Linked DNA regions of Homo sapiens: region 2 is linked to region 1. Evidence: fine-mapped expression QTL. A gene starts in region 1. The other region holds a variant in brackets. All regions are shown on one strand. Distances are from middle to middle. Region 1 holds the start of DNAJB12 (DnaJ heat shock protein family (Hsp40) member B12). Region 2 overlaps DNAJB12 (DnaJ heat shock protein family (Hsp40) member B12).

Region 1 (8,645 bases):
CAGTAAAGCTGGCAGACTTAGAAAAGGAAGGGAATTCGATAGAAGAGAACAGAGCTGCGGTGGAGAGGCACCTGAGGTAGAGCTGAGAGGATTTCTATGGCCAAAGCCACTGAACCCAGACTAGAGTTAGATTTGGCCGGGCAGTGGCTCACACCTGTCATCTCAGCACTTTAGGAGGCCAAGGCAGGAGAATGGATTGAGCTCAGGAGTTCGAGACCAGCCTTGGCAACACAGGAAGACCCTGTCTCTACGAAAATAAAAAAATTAGCCAGGTGTGGTGGCACATGCCTGTGGTCCCGGCTGTTTGGTAGGCTAAGGTGGGAGGATCACTTGGGCCTGGGTGGTTGAGGCTGCAGTGAGCTGTGATTGTGCCACTGCACTCCAGCCTGGGCAACAGAGTGAGACCCTGTCTCAAAAAAAAAAAAAAAAAAAAAAAAAAAAAGACTGCCCGATGGGTTCAAACCTAGCTCTGCCATTTGCTAGAAGGGTCATCTTGGACAAGGTAACTTAGCTCATCTGTGCAAAACTCTATCTCCATCATACAGGCTAAAAGAGGAAATGAGTGAATGCCAGCAAAAAACTCAGCCCAATGCCCAGCAAATATACAGTGTTGTCTCTGACCGTGACTTTGTTAGTAAGTGAGTAGCTGAGTTTCTGGGCTCTGTGTACCTACGGTGCTCACAGTGAGTCAGAAAAGGGCCTGGGATTGGAGATGGACAGCTCTGGGTCTTTGCTGGCTAGCCATGTGGCCTTGCCAGGTTAGCTGGTTCCTGAGTGGAGAGACGATCTCTGCTCTCATAGGAGTGCTCTGAGGGGTAAATAAGATTCTGTGAAATACAGTGAATGGAAGGGGGCTAAGTGCACAGTGGGGCTCATGAAGGTTGACTGACTTGAAGGGTACAACCCCACCCCGGACCTCGCCAGCACCAGAACATCTCTCACTCCTGGACTCTGAATGCAGAATCCCTCAGCAATCCGTCTCCTTTTCCTGTGGGCTGGCCTTCCCAGCTTGGCCTTCATGACTTAGCCCAGAGTCAACCATTTCACAGAACATTGGATAGCCTGAGCTGCAAGGAACCTCAGGATCATCCCAGCCAATCCTCTCTTTGTATGCTGGGGAAACTGAGGCCTACAAATGCTCTCGTGAGCTCCCTGGGAAATCTGGCACCTTCCACATTTGTTACAAAGCCTGAGTCAAAGCCAATGGCTTACCAGGCTGCCAGCTACTGGACAGAAACTCCCAGAAAGGGACTGACTGGCTCCACCATCTCTAGTCTGTGACCTCCCAGCTTAGGGCCCAGCTACTGCTTTGCAGTTTAACTCAGTGCCTCCTTGTCCCACCTCCTGCAGCAGGAGTTTCAAGCCCCCTCACATCCCTTTTTGCTGCAAAGGCCAACAGTGTGAGGTCCCTCATCCTTTCAAGGTTGCTCTGAGCCTCCCCTCTCTCGTGACTCTCCCCTCTCTGCCCTTCCACCTCTCCAAGACCATCCTCTGCCCATGCTCTCGATCCTTCCCTTTTCAACTCTTAACTTGTCCTTTTCCCATGCAGTGCCTGCGGCATCACACAGGGCTGCTCACCACCTGCTGCCATTACCTCTCCATGGCTACCTGGCCGCTGCCCTCTCCGGGGACTGCCTTTTCCTGTTGCTCCATCTCAATCTGTTGCTTCCTCTGCCTTTGCCTGTGGGCTCAGGGCAGGTGTTGCCTGCCATTGTGCCTGCAGCAACTTTCTCTCCATGGTCTATACTTTCCCACAGTGACCTCAGCCATGCACAACTCCAGTGAGCTCCAGGGAACAGACGATACCACACTTTCACCTGTAACCTGGAGCGCTCTCCTGAGTTCCAGGCTGACAGCTCCTTTGGACTATCCCACTGGCACCTCCCACTCTGCTCATCTCTTCCCATCTCAGTTCTTCAGCCTGGTTTCTTCCTGGTCACAGGGGCTTCAATTCTGATTCCCCAGCATCCCATCTGATTCTCCTCTGCACCTCTCTCTCACACAGGCCTGGTGCCTCTTTTCCAGGGACCTTAGCCTTATCCATGACTGCCTTGTCCCAGGCCCTCAGAATATCCAACCAGCTCAAGGCAATTCTCTCCTATTGGCTTCCTGCCCTGAAGCTCTCTTCCCTCTCATTAACCTTTCATGCTGTTCTCTTTTAACAACAGTGCCCGTACTTTATTCCTGCTATCAAAAACCTCAATGGTTTCCTCACTAACTACAGAATAAGGTGAAAATATCTTGGCCTGGTAGAAAAGGATTTCTATGATCTGGCCCCATTTTATTTCCCAAACTTAATCCTCTCTGTATACGAATTACCACCTCCACTGCCTCTAAATCTTGCTACACTTTGATCTCTTCCCCCAAACGTTACAACTTTCAGCTCCTTTGTCTTCTTCCAGGATGCCTTTCCTCAAGTCTCACACCGTCCTCCAAAGCACAATTCAAATGTTAACTCCTGTCATCCCCAAAGCATTCCCTCACTGTGAGATAACATTATTTTTATGCACTTGCTACAGCACTCACTAAACTGCTGATAATTTAATGTTCAGGAGATTGTCCTCCGCACCTCCTCCCCACCATCAGACTGTGAACCCATGGATGATGGGGCCTGATTTTTTCATGCCTGTCCTTAAGTCCTCAGCGTCTAACCTTGGGTTTATTTTTTGTTTAATTACAGTTCTGTCTTGTAATATTTGTTTCTGTAAGTTTTGTCTCTTTCACTAGATTATAAGCTCTTTTGAGGTGAGGGATCACATTTTACCAATCTTGCTAGCACCAAGCAGAGGACTTTGCAAACAAAACATAAATGATCTTCAACAAAAGTCTGCTGCATTGAATGAGCATCTGGGATGAGCCTAAACCCAAAGCAATAGACCGCCACCTAATATATCTGTATTACTCCCCCTGGGGAGGCAGGTAGCCAGCCCAGTGGGTAGCCCTGCCCTCTATTTTTGAAGTAAGATCTTTCCCTGTCCCAGACCTAAACTAATCCCAGGTCTTTGTCAGCTCAGTGGAGGGCTGCAGATGGTAAAGTTTACACGGATGCATAAGGCGTATAGTCTCATAGTCTTTCCAGAAAAGCACAAATATGACAAATATGCATGCAGGTGGTTCTTCTGTCTCAGCAAATTCCAGAGCCTGAGCCCCAGAGAGGACACTCCTTCAAGCTCCTGAACTGGTGCAGGGGCCTGCTGACAGAAAGATCCCCAGAGGCCCTGTGGCCCATCCTTTCTTGGCTGCCTGCTCCTGAGCCCGCAGCAGCATCAGTGTCAGGCAGAATTCTGACAGCTGGAGGATACCACCCCACCACAGAATATGAATTAATTCACAGGGAGGCTCCTCGAGCAGGTTACCTCAGGTGTCCTGGCAAATACAGCCCGAAACCCTCTCCAAGGGGAGGCAAACAGGCCAAAGATCAACCTGCAAGAGTCCGGAGGGAGGAAAGTTCAGCAGTCCAGGCTACCTCTTCCACCAGCGTTCCGCTTTCTCAATCTCATCAGGCGGGCAGGGCCGGTTAGGAGGCTGACTGCTGTTCCTCAATTTCATTTCTTTTCCTTCATAAACATTTACAGAGTCACAGAACATTTTACTTTCTAGCTGTGTCATCCTGGGCATCCCTTACCTCAGAGATTTTCCTCACCCATAGAATAAAGATAATGATCTTTGCTCTGCATCCCTGACTGGCAGGCTCAAGTGAGAAGGCACAGGTGAAGGAGCTTCCTAAACTGCAAAGCCCTATGGGTATTATTGCCAATCACATTATCTGCGCCAACCCTCTAATCTTCCCGAGGAGGAAACCCAAGCTCAGGAAGGTCACGTGGTAGCCGTCAGGATGAGACTGGGCCCTTCGGAGTGCCTGTTATTCCCAGACGGTTTACTGAGTGGTGATCACAAGCACCACCCGGTGTCTCTCTCCCCTCTAGCGTGGATTAAGAAAAACTCCTTGGAAAACTTAGGTTAAAGAAAAAAGAAAGGGTTCCCGGGTGAAGCGAGGTGATGAGTTGTAAAGCCAGCTTCACTCTTCCCTCCCTGGCTCAGGAGGCTCCTGTCCAGGGCAACTCAGCAGCCTCGGCGTCCACATGGCTGACCGCCGCTGGACTCTTGCGGGCGATGGAGGACTGGCGGTGGCTGAGGTCAGCACCTCCCACCAGGCCACCCGCTCCGAATCTCATCATCGGGAGGAGTGAGGGGCCCGGCTTCAGGACAGTCCGAGGCGGCGGACTGGGGTGGGTGCAAAGGCCGGCTTGCATTTTGGGAGAGTGGTCCCTGACCCTCAGCCCGAGAGGTGAGAGGGAGTGAAGATACGGAAGCGCCTTTCCCTGGCGCCCGAAGAACAGAAATGTCTCCCTGTCTAGCGCCCATTCTCTCCCTTAAAGGAGTTATGTTTATTTTCCTGAACTGTAATATTTCCCAGGCCGGCGACTGGCCTGGGCTACCGAACGGCCCCTTGGGAAAAGTAGTTCGAGTTCACTTCCAGGTAAGTTCCCTTCGTCCCGGCTGCCAGCGCGTTTCATTCTCGGAGACCTCAAACCCCAGCGGGCTCCGCCAGCACCCCGAAAGCTGAAGTCCCGGCCGCCCGAGTCTCCAGACGGCTCGCATCCCGCAGAGGAACAAGAGGGAAAAACTACGCCTCCCAGCAGCCACCGCGCGCCTCAGTGCGCAGGCGTAGCCGCGCCTCGCCACCCCTCCCCCTCCCCCAACTGCTCCCGTCGGTCCGTTCCCGTGTTCCCCCCATCAGTTCTAATGTCCCCAGTCTCTCCGGCACCTCACACTCACCGCGAACTCGCGGCGTCGGATACAGCCGCTGTGCCTTCTCCAGGAAGCGGAGCGCCCGGTCGGGCTGGTTGCTCTGGATGGCCTTGAGGGCGATGCTGATACAGCGCTCAGCTTCATCCTTGTTGGATTCCATGGCGGAACCAGAACGCGGAACCAGGGAGGGGGAGGCCGGGCGAGCGAAGGGCTGCGCCACCCGCCGGCGCGTCGCGGGCAGCCGGGCGCGGAGTGATGACATCCACCCTCCGCCCCTCCTTTCCCGAGTTTTGAGCGAGGGTGGAAGTGCTACCGTATGTCTTCTAAGAAAGGGACGGCTGGTGTAGGTGTCAATAATGGTGCACGCCCAGATTCCATGTTCCGGAGGTCTTAGAGTTGAGTATGCGCCAACCCTCTAATCTTCCGGAGGAGGAAACCCAAGCTCAGGAAGGTCACGTGGTAGCCGTCGGGATGAGACTGGGGCCTTCGGAGTGCCTGTTATTCCCAGACGGTTTACTAAGTGGTGATCTATATACGTAATGTAACTACATACGTTTCAGACAAAGGTTATTTATTCACTGAACAGATATTGAGTGCCCACTGTTTGTGAGGCATGGTTTTATGATGGGGATACAGGGGTGAGCAAAACAAAGCTCCTGCTCTCATGGAGCTTACATTCCAGTGTGTGTAGGCTGGGGGAGCTCCAGATAGATTCAGATAGTGATAAAAGCTCTGAAGAAAAATTATGGAAAACACAGGGATAGAGAGTGGGAGGCGCTATTTTAAATAGCGCGATAAAAGAAACCTCTCAGAAGCTGTCATTAACAGGTACCAGAATTCAGGAACGATAACAGGTAGATGTGACTGTCTGGAGGAAGGGTGGTCAGGCCGAAGGAACAGCAAGTGCAAAGGCTCTGAAAAGGGAATTCTCTTGGTGAGTTATAACAGATCAGGAAGGCGAATACATTCTAGGGAGCGTAAAGATTCTACTACAGGCTGGGCGCGGTGGCTCACGCCTGTAATCCCAGCACTTTGAGAGGCCGAGGCGGGCGGATCACTTGAGGTCAGGAGTTCGAGACCAGCCTGACCAACATGGAGAAACCCCGTCTCTACTAAAAATACAAAATTAGCCGGGCATGGTGGCACATGGCCTGTAATCCCACCTACTCGGGAGGCTGAGGCGGGAGAATCGCTTGAACCTGGGAGGTGGAGGTTGCGGTGAGCCAAGATCACACCATTGCACTCCAGCCTGGGCAACAAGAGTGAAACGCCATCTAAAAAAAAAGAAGAAAAAAAAAAGATTCTACTACAGAGTGTAATCCAGTTCTATCATTATCCCGTTCTTCGAGGGCTATCACTCCAGTGAAAGCAATCTTGTGAAGGTTGCCAGTGACCTCCACGTTGCCGAATCCCCGAGTCATCTGTCAGCCCTTACATTGCTTGGCCTTTCAGGCAGGATTTGGTAAGATGCTACTACAGTAATCCGGATGAGAGTCAGGAAGCTACTATTATAATACAGGTGAAAATTAATGGTAACTTGGATAAGGGTGATGGCGGAGGTGGTGAGTAGTAGTAAAATTCTGGATATATTTTGAAGACAGAATGACGCAATGGATGTGGGCTGTGAGAGAAAGAAGATTCAAGGATGATTCCAATGTTTTTGGCTTGATAACTGGAAGAAGAGAATTTCTATTTACTAAAACAAGGAAATGGAAAAGACTACAAAAGCAGTTTGGTGGGGGAATATTAAGGGTTTGATTCAGTTTATGATGCTTTTTAGAATCAAGCAGAGATACAGACTAGGATGTTGTACATACGTAGGGTTTAGGCAAAAAGGACCTGGAAATATAACTTTGGGGCCAGGCACAGTGGCTCACTCCTATAATCCCAACATTTTGGGAGGCCAGGGGTGGGAGGATCACTTGAGGCAAGGAGTTTGAGACCAGCCTGGGCAACAGAGTGAGATCCCATCACTACAAAAAAATAAAAAATTAGCTGGGTGTGGTAGTACACGCCTGTAGTCCCAGCTACTCAGGAGGCTGAGGTGGGAGGATCACTTGAGCATGGGAGGTCAAGGCTGCAGTGAGCTGTGATATATATATATATATATATATATATATATATATATATATATATATATATATATATATATATGCACCAAGGAAGTGAGTGTAGATGGAGAAGAGCAGAGAAGTCTGATTACTGAGCCTCACGAAATCCCAACATTTAAAGATCTGGAAGAGGAAGAAAATCCAGTAAAGGAGAATGTGAAGAAGCAGGTTGTAAGGAAATGAGTAGGTCAGGTATGGTGGCTCATGCCTGTAATCCCAGCACTTGGGGAGGCTGAGGTGGGAGGCTCGCTTTAGCCCAGGAGTTCAAGACCAGCCTGGGCAACATAATGAGACCGCCCCCCCTCACGGTCTCTACAAACAGTTTTTTTAGAAAAGGAGGGAGGGGGGGTCAAACGTCATATCCTGTGGAGAGGCCAAGCAATGTGAGGCCTGAGAAATGACCAATGGATTTGGCAGTGTAGAGGGCAGTGTTGACTTTGACAAAATTGCTTTTATCTATTTCATTTTATTTTTTTGAGACAGGGTCTCACTGTTACCCAGACTGGAGTGCAGTGGCACAGTTATGGCTCACTGCAGCCTCAACTTTCTGGGCTCAAGCAATCCTCCCACCTCCGCCTCCTGAATAGCTGGGACTACAGGAGTGCTCCACCACACCTGGCTAGTTTTTTTTTTAAGTTTTTTTTTAGAGATGGGGTCTCACTGTGTTGCCTAGGCTGGTCTCAAACTTCTAGGCTCAAGTGATCCTCTCACCTCAACCTCCCAAAGTGCTGGGATTACAGGTGTGAGCCACTGTGCCTGACCATAAAATGGCTTTTAGTGTGTGGTAGGGGTGAAAACCCAACAGGAATGGATTCAAGAGAGTAAAGGTGGCTGGGCGCAGTGGCTCAAACCTGTAATCTCAGCACTTTGGGAGGGTGAGGTGGGTGGATCACCTGAGGTCAGGAGTTCAAGACCAGCCTGGCCAACATGGTGAAACCCTATCTCTACTAAAAAAAATTACAAAAATTAGCCAGGTGTGGTGGCATGCGCCTGTACTCCCAGCTACCCAGGAGGATTATGAGCCTGGGAGGTCGAGGCTGCAGGGAGCCATGGTTGCCCCACTACACTCTAGCCTGGGCACAGAGTCAGACCCTGTCTCAATAAATAAATACACACATAAGAAAGAAGCAAGGTCATGGCCTCCTCAGCTATACATGCTCCTTGGAAAATTCTTTCACATCCAACCTTCCTTTCCATTCCCATTTTTCCCTTTCCAATGCAAACCCTTACGACTCCATGCTGGCCTGGTACAGACCCTCCTTGATAAGACAGTCCTACACTTGGAGAAATTTAAGTTCTCTACAAATTGATAGGTCCCTAATGTGTCCATGGATAAATGCTGGGATCCTTTTCAAACAGCCTCTCTGAGGTTTGTTGACCTAGCACGACAATTTCCATCTTCCTGTCTCCTGCTAAGAATCATGAAGTATCCTCTTCCATTTCCTATCATGAGGCCTGTCTTCTCCTGCTGACTACAAGATACAGTCATGTGTCACTTAATGACAGGGATATGTTCTGAGAAAAGTGTTGTTAGGTGATTTTATCACTGTGCGAACATCATAGAGTCCTTATACAAACCTAAGTTGGTATAGCCTGCTACACACCTAGGGTTTAAGGTATGACCTGTTGCTTCTAGGTTACATACCTGTACAGAACATTACCATACCGAATACAATGGGAAGTATTTGTGTATCTAAACATAGAAAAGGTAATGCATTGTGCTATGACCTTATGATGGCTATGAATGTCACTAGGCAATAGGACTTTTTCAGCTCCATTATA
Region 2 (8,645 bases), 24 kb before region 1:
GTCAGAGCCGGCTCCCTCAGCTTGCAGGGAGGTGTGGAGGGAGAGGCGCGAGCGGGAACCCGGGCTGCGCGCGGCGCTTGCGGGCCAGCTAGAGTTCCGGGTGGGCGTGGGCTTGGCGGCCCCGCACTCGGAGCAGCCCGCCGGCCCTGCCGCCCCGGGGAATGAGGGGCTTAGCACCCGGGCCAGCGGCTGCGGAGGGTGTACTGGGTCCCCCAGCAGTGCCAGCCCACCGGCGCTGCTCTCGATTTCTCACCGGGTCTTAGCTGCCTTCCTGAGGGGCAGGGCTCGGGACCTGCAGCCCGCCATGCCTGAGCCTCCCACCCCCTCCATGGGCTCCTGTGCGGCCCGAGCCTCCCCGATGAGCGCCGCCCCCTGCTCCACAGCGCCCAGTCCCATCGACCACCCAAGGGCTGAGGAGTGCGGGCCCACAGCGCGGGACTGGCAGGCAGCTCCACCTGCAGCCCCGGTGCACGATCCACTGAGTGAAGCCAGCTGGGCTCCTGAGTCTGGTGGGGACGTGGAGAACCTTTATGTCTAGCTTAGGGATTGTAAATACACCAATCGGCACTCTGTATCTAGCTCAAGGTTTGTGAACACACCAATCAGCACCCTGTGTCTAGCTCAGGGTTTGTGAATGCACCAGTCGACACTCTGTATCTAGCTACTCTGGTGGGGCCTTGGAGAACCTTTGTGTCCATACTCTGTATCTAACTAATCTGGTGGGGATGTGGAGAACCTTTGTGTCTAGCTCAGGGATTGTAAATGCACCAATCAGCGCCCTGTCAAAACAGACCAGTCGGCTCTACCAATCAGCAGGATGTGGGTGGGGCCAGATAAGAGAATAAAAGCACGCTGCCCGAGCCAGCAGTGACAACCTGCTGGGGTCTGCTTCCACACTGTGGACGCTTTGTTCTTTCGCTCTTTGCAATATATCTTGCTACTGCTCACTCTTTGGGTCCACGCTGCTTTTATGAGCTGCAACACTCACTGTAAAGGTCTGCAGCTTCTACTCCTGAAGCCAGCGACGAACAACTCCAGATGTGCCGCTTTAAGAGCTGTAACACTCACCGCAAAGGTCTGCAGCTTCACTCCTGAGCCAGCGAGACCACGAACACACCAAAAGGAAGAAACTCGCGACACATCCAAACATCAGAAGGAACAAACTCCAGACGCGCTACCTTAAGAGCTGTAACACTCACCGCGAGGGTCCGTGGCTTCATTCTTGAAGTCGGTGAGACCAAGAACCCACCAATTCCGGACACAAGGCTAGCAGGGCTGACACCTATAAACTCAGTGGCTGACAGAGGCTGACATCCTTAGTGACTGAACTAGTGAGGTCTGTGGGATGATAATTATAATAAGATTTTTTTTTTGAGACAGAGTCTCGATCTTGTTGCCCAGGCTGGAGTGCAAGGGCGTGGGCTCACTGCAACCTCCGCCTCCTGGGTTCAAGTGATTCTCTTGCATCAGCCTCCTGAGTAGCTGGGATTACAGGCGTGCGCCACCACACCTGGTAATTTTGTATTTTTAGTAGAGACAGGTTTCGCTGTGTTGGTCAGGGTGGTCTTGAACTCTTGACCGCAAGTGATCCACCTGCTTCAGCCTCCCAAAGTGCTGGGATTATAGGCGTGAGTCACCACGCCTAGCCTATAATAAGATTTTTTTTTTTTTGAGACGGAGTCTCACTCCGTTGCCAGGCTGGAGTACAGTGGCACAATCTCGGCTCACTGCAACCTCCGCCTCCTGGGTTCAAGCCATTCTCCTGCCTCAACCTCCTGAGTAGCTGGGACTACCAGCATGTGCCACCAACACCCAGCTAATTTTTGTATTTTTAGTAGAGACGGGGTTTCACCATGTTGGCCAGGATGATCTCGATCTCTTGACCTCTTGGTCCACCCGCCTCGGCCTCGAAAAATGCTGGGATTACAGGCGTGAGCCACCTCACCCAGCCGATAATAAGATTTTATAAGTAAATGATACAGATGAAAAGTGCCTCCTGGCCTAGCGTGTCCATGGCGGAGGCTGGAACTCCGATCTTTGGGCTCAGTGCTTCCATGCCAAGGTGGGACCAGAGAGAGACTGAGGACTAAAGACATCCACAGAGAAGCAGCTCTGAGCACCTGCGGTGGCCTCCCAAGGCCTGTCACTCACAGCCTGAACACCATGGACACACTTGCTGCCCATGTGGCCCCTGCAGTGGTGGTAGCTGGCTTGTTTGACTTGTGGCTGGAAGCAAAATTAGGGCCCACGATGCCACCTTCTGCACGCAGGCCATGGGCTGGCAGCCAGCAGATGGCAGAGCCTGCCAGAGGTGATTCCAGGGCTTGTGGCCAGGGCAGCACTGGGGCGGCCGGGGACAGAATTGGGTCTGACTCCAGGAGTGGCTGGCCTGAGTGCTGGAGAGAGCCTCCTCCTCTACCCCTTGGGGTGGTGACCTCTTCGGACAGGAGTCCGCACTCCTCTCAATGACCAATGTTTGTGATTCTCATTTTGGCCCCTGCTACATTTGTCCTTACGCAGGGAGAGGAGACCTGGGGCCTTTTCAGCAGGATCAGCAGGACTCTGCTTCCCCCCGGAGGCAGGAAAAGGAAAAAGCCCCCGCCCAGTGCCCGTCCCATGAGCGACTGCTGCCTCCAGCCACCGTCCAGCTGGATGCACACCGTGGCTGATGGCCCTGGGTCTAAGCCCTCTAAGATCTGGGAGAAGTGTCCCCCAGCCAGGGTGTGGGTTTATGGCTGCAAAGCAGCTCCCTAGGGTGACCCTGGGCAGAGGAGTAGGCGAGGCTGGGAATGCTGCAGGTGGGGACAGTGCCTCAGTGCTGATGGGCCCTTCCTTCACTCAGCCTCCCATGGAGACCCCAGGTTGTGGTGCCCAGGCCCTGGGGCTGCAGCCCTGAACCTCTTCTCCAGGGAAGCCTTTGCCTAAGAACTACACAAATACCTCCAGAACAGGATGTGAGAGGCCCAAAAGGGCCAGGCCAGACCTCCCTGAGGAGGTGGCAGGAGGTTGGGCCCTGAGGGGTGAGAGGAACCTCAGGCAGAAGGGAACCCGGGTAGCAGGGCTCCACGGTGGAGGGAGGGGCTCCGCAGGCTGCAGTCAGGGTGGGAGGGCCCTGCACAGTATGTGGGGCCAGGAGGAGTGCAGGGGAGGTTTTGGGCTGTCAGTGTGGGGGAATGAGGCCGGGCCTGGCCAGCTCCATTCTGGCCCCACTTTCTCCATCTGAAGGAGCCCGCTGCATCCTCCTGTGCTGCCAGGCACCTGTCTCTCAGGCCTCCTCATCTGAGTCCATCAGGAAAATGAGAATAATCCAGTCGAGGTAGTGGGACTGCCAGCTGGGGTCCCTGCAGGCCCTAGCCTGATCCCTGCTCTGACTAGCACGGGCTCCAGTGGGGAGCTGCACCCTGCCTCCTCAAGGAAAAATCCAGCCAGGGAGCAGCCCTGCCCTCCCTCCCTAGGGACTTTGTTTAGACCAAATTGGTAGGAGGGTGGGGAAGGTGGACAAAATGTGGCAGGCCCTCCCCTCCCCAAGCAAAGCCCCAACTCCCGGGCTCTGGGCAGACTAGCCGTGGGGTCCTAGAGAGCGCCTGCCCGCCTGCCCCTCTTCCTGCCTGAGCCCTGGACCTTTATTTCATGCCCAAGTGGCTGTGAGAGTGACAGGAGGTCCAGGCCCTGTCCCTAGGGAAATATCTC[C/T]TTACAAGGGTCTGGGGCGGGAGTGACAGTCCTGTCTGCCCTGTTACCCCCTCCACCACATGGCCTTCTCTCAGCTTATAGAGTTAGTTGCAGCCTCCCTAAGGGCAGGCAGGCCACCAAGAAAGGTTCAGAAATGCTTGCTGAGTGAATTGCTGAGTGGACAGGGTGCAGCCAGGAGTGGAGAAGCTCAGTGTCTCTCATTCATGCCTGGGAAAGTTCTCTGCCCAAGGCCACTGGGTGGGCCTGGCATGATGACAGGTACAGACTGGGGGCCTGGCCTGGGCATTGCTCCCAAATGCGCTCACTTCTGCACTCTCCGGCCTCCGGGCCTCTGCTCATGCTGGAGCACCCACTCCACCCCCACCCCAGTACTGCCTGTACCCACCTCCTTCACAAACGCCAGTTCCTCTATCAAGAGTCCCTGGCTAGAGCCTTCACAACTGCTCCGCTCCCAGGGTTTCTACTCAAGGGCAGTCCTCGTCTCAGTCACCTTGGAGCTTTCACTGCTTGGAATGGGACTTGACACCCAGTCATTGCTCAGCTAATCTTTGTCCACTAAGGACAAACAAGAAACACCCAAATGGCACTCGCCATGTACCAGGCACTGTTCTAAGTGCTTTATATGTGGTAACTTGTTTACTCCTCACAACCATCCTATGAGGTAGGTGTTTGTATCACTCCCATTTTGCAGATGAAGACACTGAGGCAAAGGGCAGTCAAATGACACAGGAAAGCAAAAACTGGCTCCCTCCACCCTTCTAGGGTCTTTGACTGTGCTAGGAATTACATGGACAGATAAAGTGGTTAACAGGAGAAAAATCATATTTAATTACGTACATAGGCATGGGAGCCCCACAAAATATGCAATTTCAAGAAAGATCACATCTTGAGCTACAGAAAAGGAACTGGGGTCCAGGATAACCTTTGTACCTTAAAAAAAAAACCAAAAAAAAAAAAAAAAAAAAAACGGGCTGGGAGCTTCTGGTGGGTGATGGCAATGCAAGTTTGGGAGGGTGAGGGGAGGAACTGCATGGTGAGCAAAAGTTGTCTCGTTATGCAGATAAAAAGTCAGTCTCGGCCAGGCATGGTGGCTCATGCCTGTAATCTCAGCACTTTGGGAGGCTGAGGTGGGCGGATCACGAGGTCAGGAGATCGAGACCATCCTGGCTAACACAGTGAAACCCTGTCTCTACTAAAAATACAAAAAAATTAGCCGGGCGTGGTGGCAGGCACCTGTAGTCCCAGCTACTCGGGAGGCTGAGGCAGGAGAATGGCGTGAACCCGGGAAGCGGAGCTTGCAGTGAGCCGAGATTGCGCCACTGCACTCCAGCCTGGGTGACAGAGCGAGATTCCATCTCAAAAAAAAAAAAAAAGTCAGTCTCTCAGGTCTTAACAGTTGTCTGAGCAGCCCCAAGAATAATAGGCAGTTGTTGTCAATGAGTCAATCCTCCTTGGTAGGTAAGATTTCCAGGAGGGAGTTCAGGACAACTTAGGCAGATGAGGCAACTTCAGAGAAAGCCCTTCCTGCACTTGCTGTTGCTCAAGTGCCCCCAGTTTGAAGTAATCAGCACACCAAAATGGCAGATTTTGGGGTGGCATTTCCTGAACTCCTTCAGGGACACCCAAGGTCACCCAGTCAGTAAATGGCAAAGATCCAGCCTCAGCCCCCGTGGGGGCTGCGAGGCTGCCTCCTGGGGATGACGTTTCCTGGTGCAGCCAGATGGATGCCCGTGTCACTGCCAGGAGACACCTACTGGAATGGGCAGCTGCTCCCTAGGCCAAGCCCATCAGATGAAGTGCCACCATCCTCAGTGTGGCCTTTTCATCCTTTTCCACCCTCCTGGACTCGGGTCTTCTGCCCACTCTACCTGACACCAGTGGGTTTGATTTCCCTGAGTGCAGCAAATTTGGGCTCAGCAACTGTTTGTAGAATGACCACTCTGCTACAAGGACCCCAGAGACAGGCACAGTTTCTTCAAGACCCTGGGCGCCACTTTCCTCCCCCAAGCCTGTTTCCTGCTCTGGGAAATGAGCTGACTTGCTCATGTCACATGGCGTGATGTCTGGTAGGGACGCTGGGTTGCTTCTGAACCATGTCAACAGTCTATTTACCTGATTCTTGGCATGGCTGTGTGCCTGCTCCAGACGCCAGGTGACTTTGTCTGGGCAATGTGGGGTGGGGATGAGGTTACAGGCAGGTCGGGTGTGTGCTCCTTGTCCCTGGAGCAGTTTTTTTTTCTCTGGACCTGGGAGCAGCAAGGGACAAGGCTATAAGCTAGTGGAGCCAGGGAGCTGGGATGCAGTGGCGCGTTCTGCCACCTGACAGTGGGTGGGGGACACTTGTCAAAGCCTTTTTTGCTGCAGTCAGAGCGTGCATCCCACCTCCTCTGGCTCACGGCCAAGCCACACAGGGAGGGCAGGGGGGATGAGGTGGGTGAATGGGGGTGCCTGCAACGCCTCTGCCAACCGCAGCTAACAAGTGGCGGCTTGCACACCAGGGCAGGCAGTGGTGACCCTGGGCAGGGGCAGCCAATGAGCTCCCGGGCCACGGTGGCACCACTGGGCAGCCCGCCTGTCTTTGGCTGGTGCAGCCGCGGGAGGGGCCTGGGTCCGCCAGTCAGGGCTGCCGGGCCCTGTCTCTGGGAGGCCTGGGCAGATCTGCCGCTCCATTCACAGGAGCCCGACCCGACTTGGGCTGCCACATTTTAAACTTTTTCAACCTCCTGGAGAGGAGGGCGGGCTGCGGGGGCGGTTTGGGGGAGGATGGTGGGAAGGACGATGGAAACAAACTCGCAACACTTTTCCCAGGATCTGGCTCCTGAGTGGGATCGAGCTCCAGGCTGGGGCCGGGAATTTCGAATGCTCTGCGGGCACATGGCAGGCCTGAGGGTGTGGGGGGGAGGGATTGGGAGAGGGAAAAGCAGAGGGTGATGGTCGTGGCCCAGATGCCCAGCCAGGACTGGCGCTGGGGACCCCAGGGACCCAGACTGCTCAGGTCCTGCAGCCCCCCAGTCACCTGAGCACCCCTCTGCCTGGATGGAGTTAGTTCTGGAACAGCATGTGTGGCTTAAGTGGCTGTTAGCCAGGGCCAGGGGTCGGGGGAAATTCAGGCTCATCATCTAGAGCTCCTTGTGGCACAGGCTGGACAGTGTCAGCAGCAGCAGGGGCTTGTGCCCCCTCCCCCCCACCCCTTAGGCCTCCCTGCTCAATGCAGACCCACCACGGCCAGTCACATAATAAACATATATTAACAGATGTACAATTTGAGAATTCTAATTCAAGAAATACAGCTTCCAGAGGATCCTTTAGGATCTATGTTCTTATTGCACATGGCTCAGCCCGTCTAGGGACATCTACCAAGACCAGATGGTCGGGGCGTGGGGGCAGAGCACCGGGGCCACAGTGGGTAGGCACTCTGGCCACATCAGTTCTTATAATCTCTCTGGGCTGAAGTGGCTGCTTCATTGCAGGGTTGGACCTTGTTTAAAAACCAGATTTGACATTTCCTTACCGAACTTCCTTTCCCAGCAAGAATCCTATTTGTTGGGGGACTTTTAAAAAAAGAGCCGAGAGAAACTCTGGGAGGGTGGTTATCACCTCCTGGCTGGCAGCTTGGGGAAGTAAGGCTTTGGAAGACGGCGGGCGCAATGACACACCCACCGCCACAGGAAAACATGGTCATTCCAGAAGGCCCAGGAGAAACTGTGGGAATAAATAAAACCTCCCTCCTCCCACTGGCGGCAAGTGCTGTTTTAAGCAAAATCCTCATTTCAATGTGAGGGTAAGAAAACTATTCTGGTTCAGGTGTATCCTTTGTCCAAGGTACGAGAGGAGGCCTGGCGGTCACATCAACAGCGAGTGAAGACAGAGGCAGCCACGGGCACTGCCTTTTCTTCAGGAGTCGAGGAGGCTGCCCTGGGGTCCCGGCACCACTGACTGACTCGGAGGAAGAACTTTCTGAAGTCCTTGGTGCATGACTTAGGAAAAACCAGTGGCAATGATGGAGCTGTGCCCTGTGGCACCTATAAGGCAAAGCCCACTGAGGGACTTAGGGGTGGGGAAATGGTTAGGTAGATCCTGGCCCCCTCTGCAGGCCTTCCCTTCTGTGGGCAGGGGGCTGGAGGGCTCCTGGGCACCAGGACAAAGAGCCCACCAGCGCTGCTGAGAGGGGAGAGGTGGTCTCACCCAAGCAGGTCCTTGTGGGGCCTCTACTGTGACTCAATACTGACCTGGCACCTGCCTCCATGGCCTGCTCCTCTCCAGGTTAACCATAATCCTGAGGCCTTCGCGGGTTCACACTATCATGATTACTGCTGCCATCAAAACCAGGCTGGGGTTTCGGGGGGCTGTGAAAAGCTCTGATGCGACTCTCCTTATGCTGTCAGCTACAGCTAATGTCTAGCAAAAACATCACCAGGGTACCTTCCCCAAACAGGCCTCATTTTCTAAAACATGGAAGAAATCAGCTCAACAACTTAACCAAATCCCTGCAGAGTTTAAAAAGTAGACTATATATATATATATCTTCATATATGCCTATTTACATATAAATAGATATATATACATATACACGCATCTATAAATTACATTCTATGGAGAGTTCTCTTTCTTCCTCCTATCTTTGGCCAGGGCCTCTGGCTTCTCCTGAGAGGTGGCTGGTGGTGGCTCCTGTGAGGGAGGAAAGGCAGCTGGGTGCCCCCTCCCCCAGCCCTTCCCACTGATATCTGCTGCGAGTTTTACATTCTACTTTCGTTGCCATGGTTTCTGTATCCTAGGAGAGAGGCGATGCGGAGCCTCCGCCAGCCCTGCGAGGGAGGGAAGCAGCCCCATGGCAGGTTTTCTGTCTGTCCTAAGAGCTTTCTGCATTTACTGGGTGAGAGAGAGGGCAGCTGTGCAGCGTTCGGCCTCCAATTCCATTTTAATTTTGTTTCTTTGTTTGTCTTTCCTCAAATATA

What was found. PIP is the estimated chance that this variant, and not a neighbour inherited with it, causes the effect.
Region 2: its variant is fine-mapped to the expression of DNAJB12 in whole blood (INTERVAL, PIP above 0.99).

Annotation. Positions count from the first base shown.
Region 1 is chr10:72,349,986-72,358,630 of GRCh38, forward strand. DNAJB12 (DnaJ heat shock protein family (Hsp40) member B12) reads right to left here and starts at 4,934. Exons shown (of 9, transcript NM_017626.7): 1 at 4,780-4,934. The coding sequence starts at 4,912. RefSeq lists enhancers at 4,391-4,520, 4,911-5,160.
Region 2 is chr10:72,325,916-72,334,560 of GRCh38, forward strand. DNAJB12 (DnaJ heat shock protein family (Hsp40) member B12) reads right to left here. Exons shown (of 9, transcript NM_017626.7): 9 at 6,948-8,645. Among named protein-coding and RNA genes, the nearest start is that of DNAJB12, 25 kb to the right of the region's middle. RefSeq lists an enhancer at 2,663-2,862 and a silencer at 6,146-6,395. The variant C/T (reference allele first, on the strand shown) is at 3,691.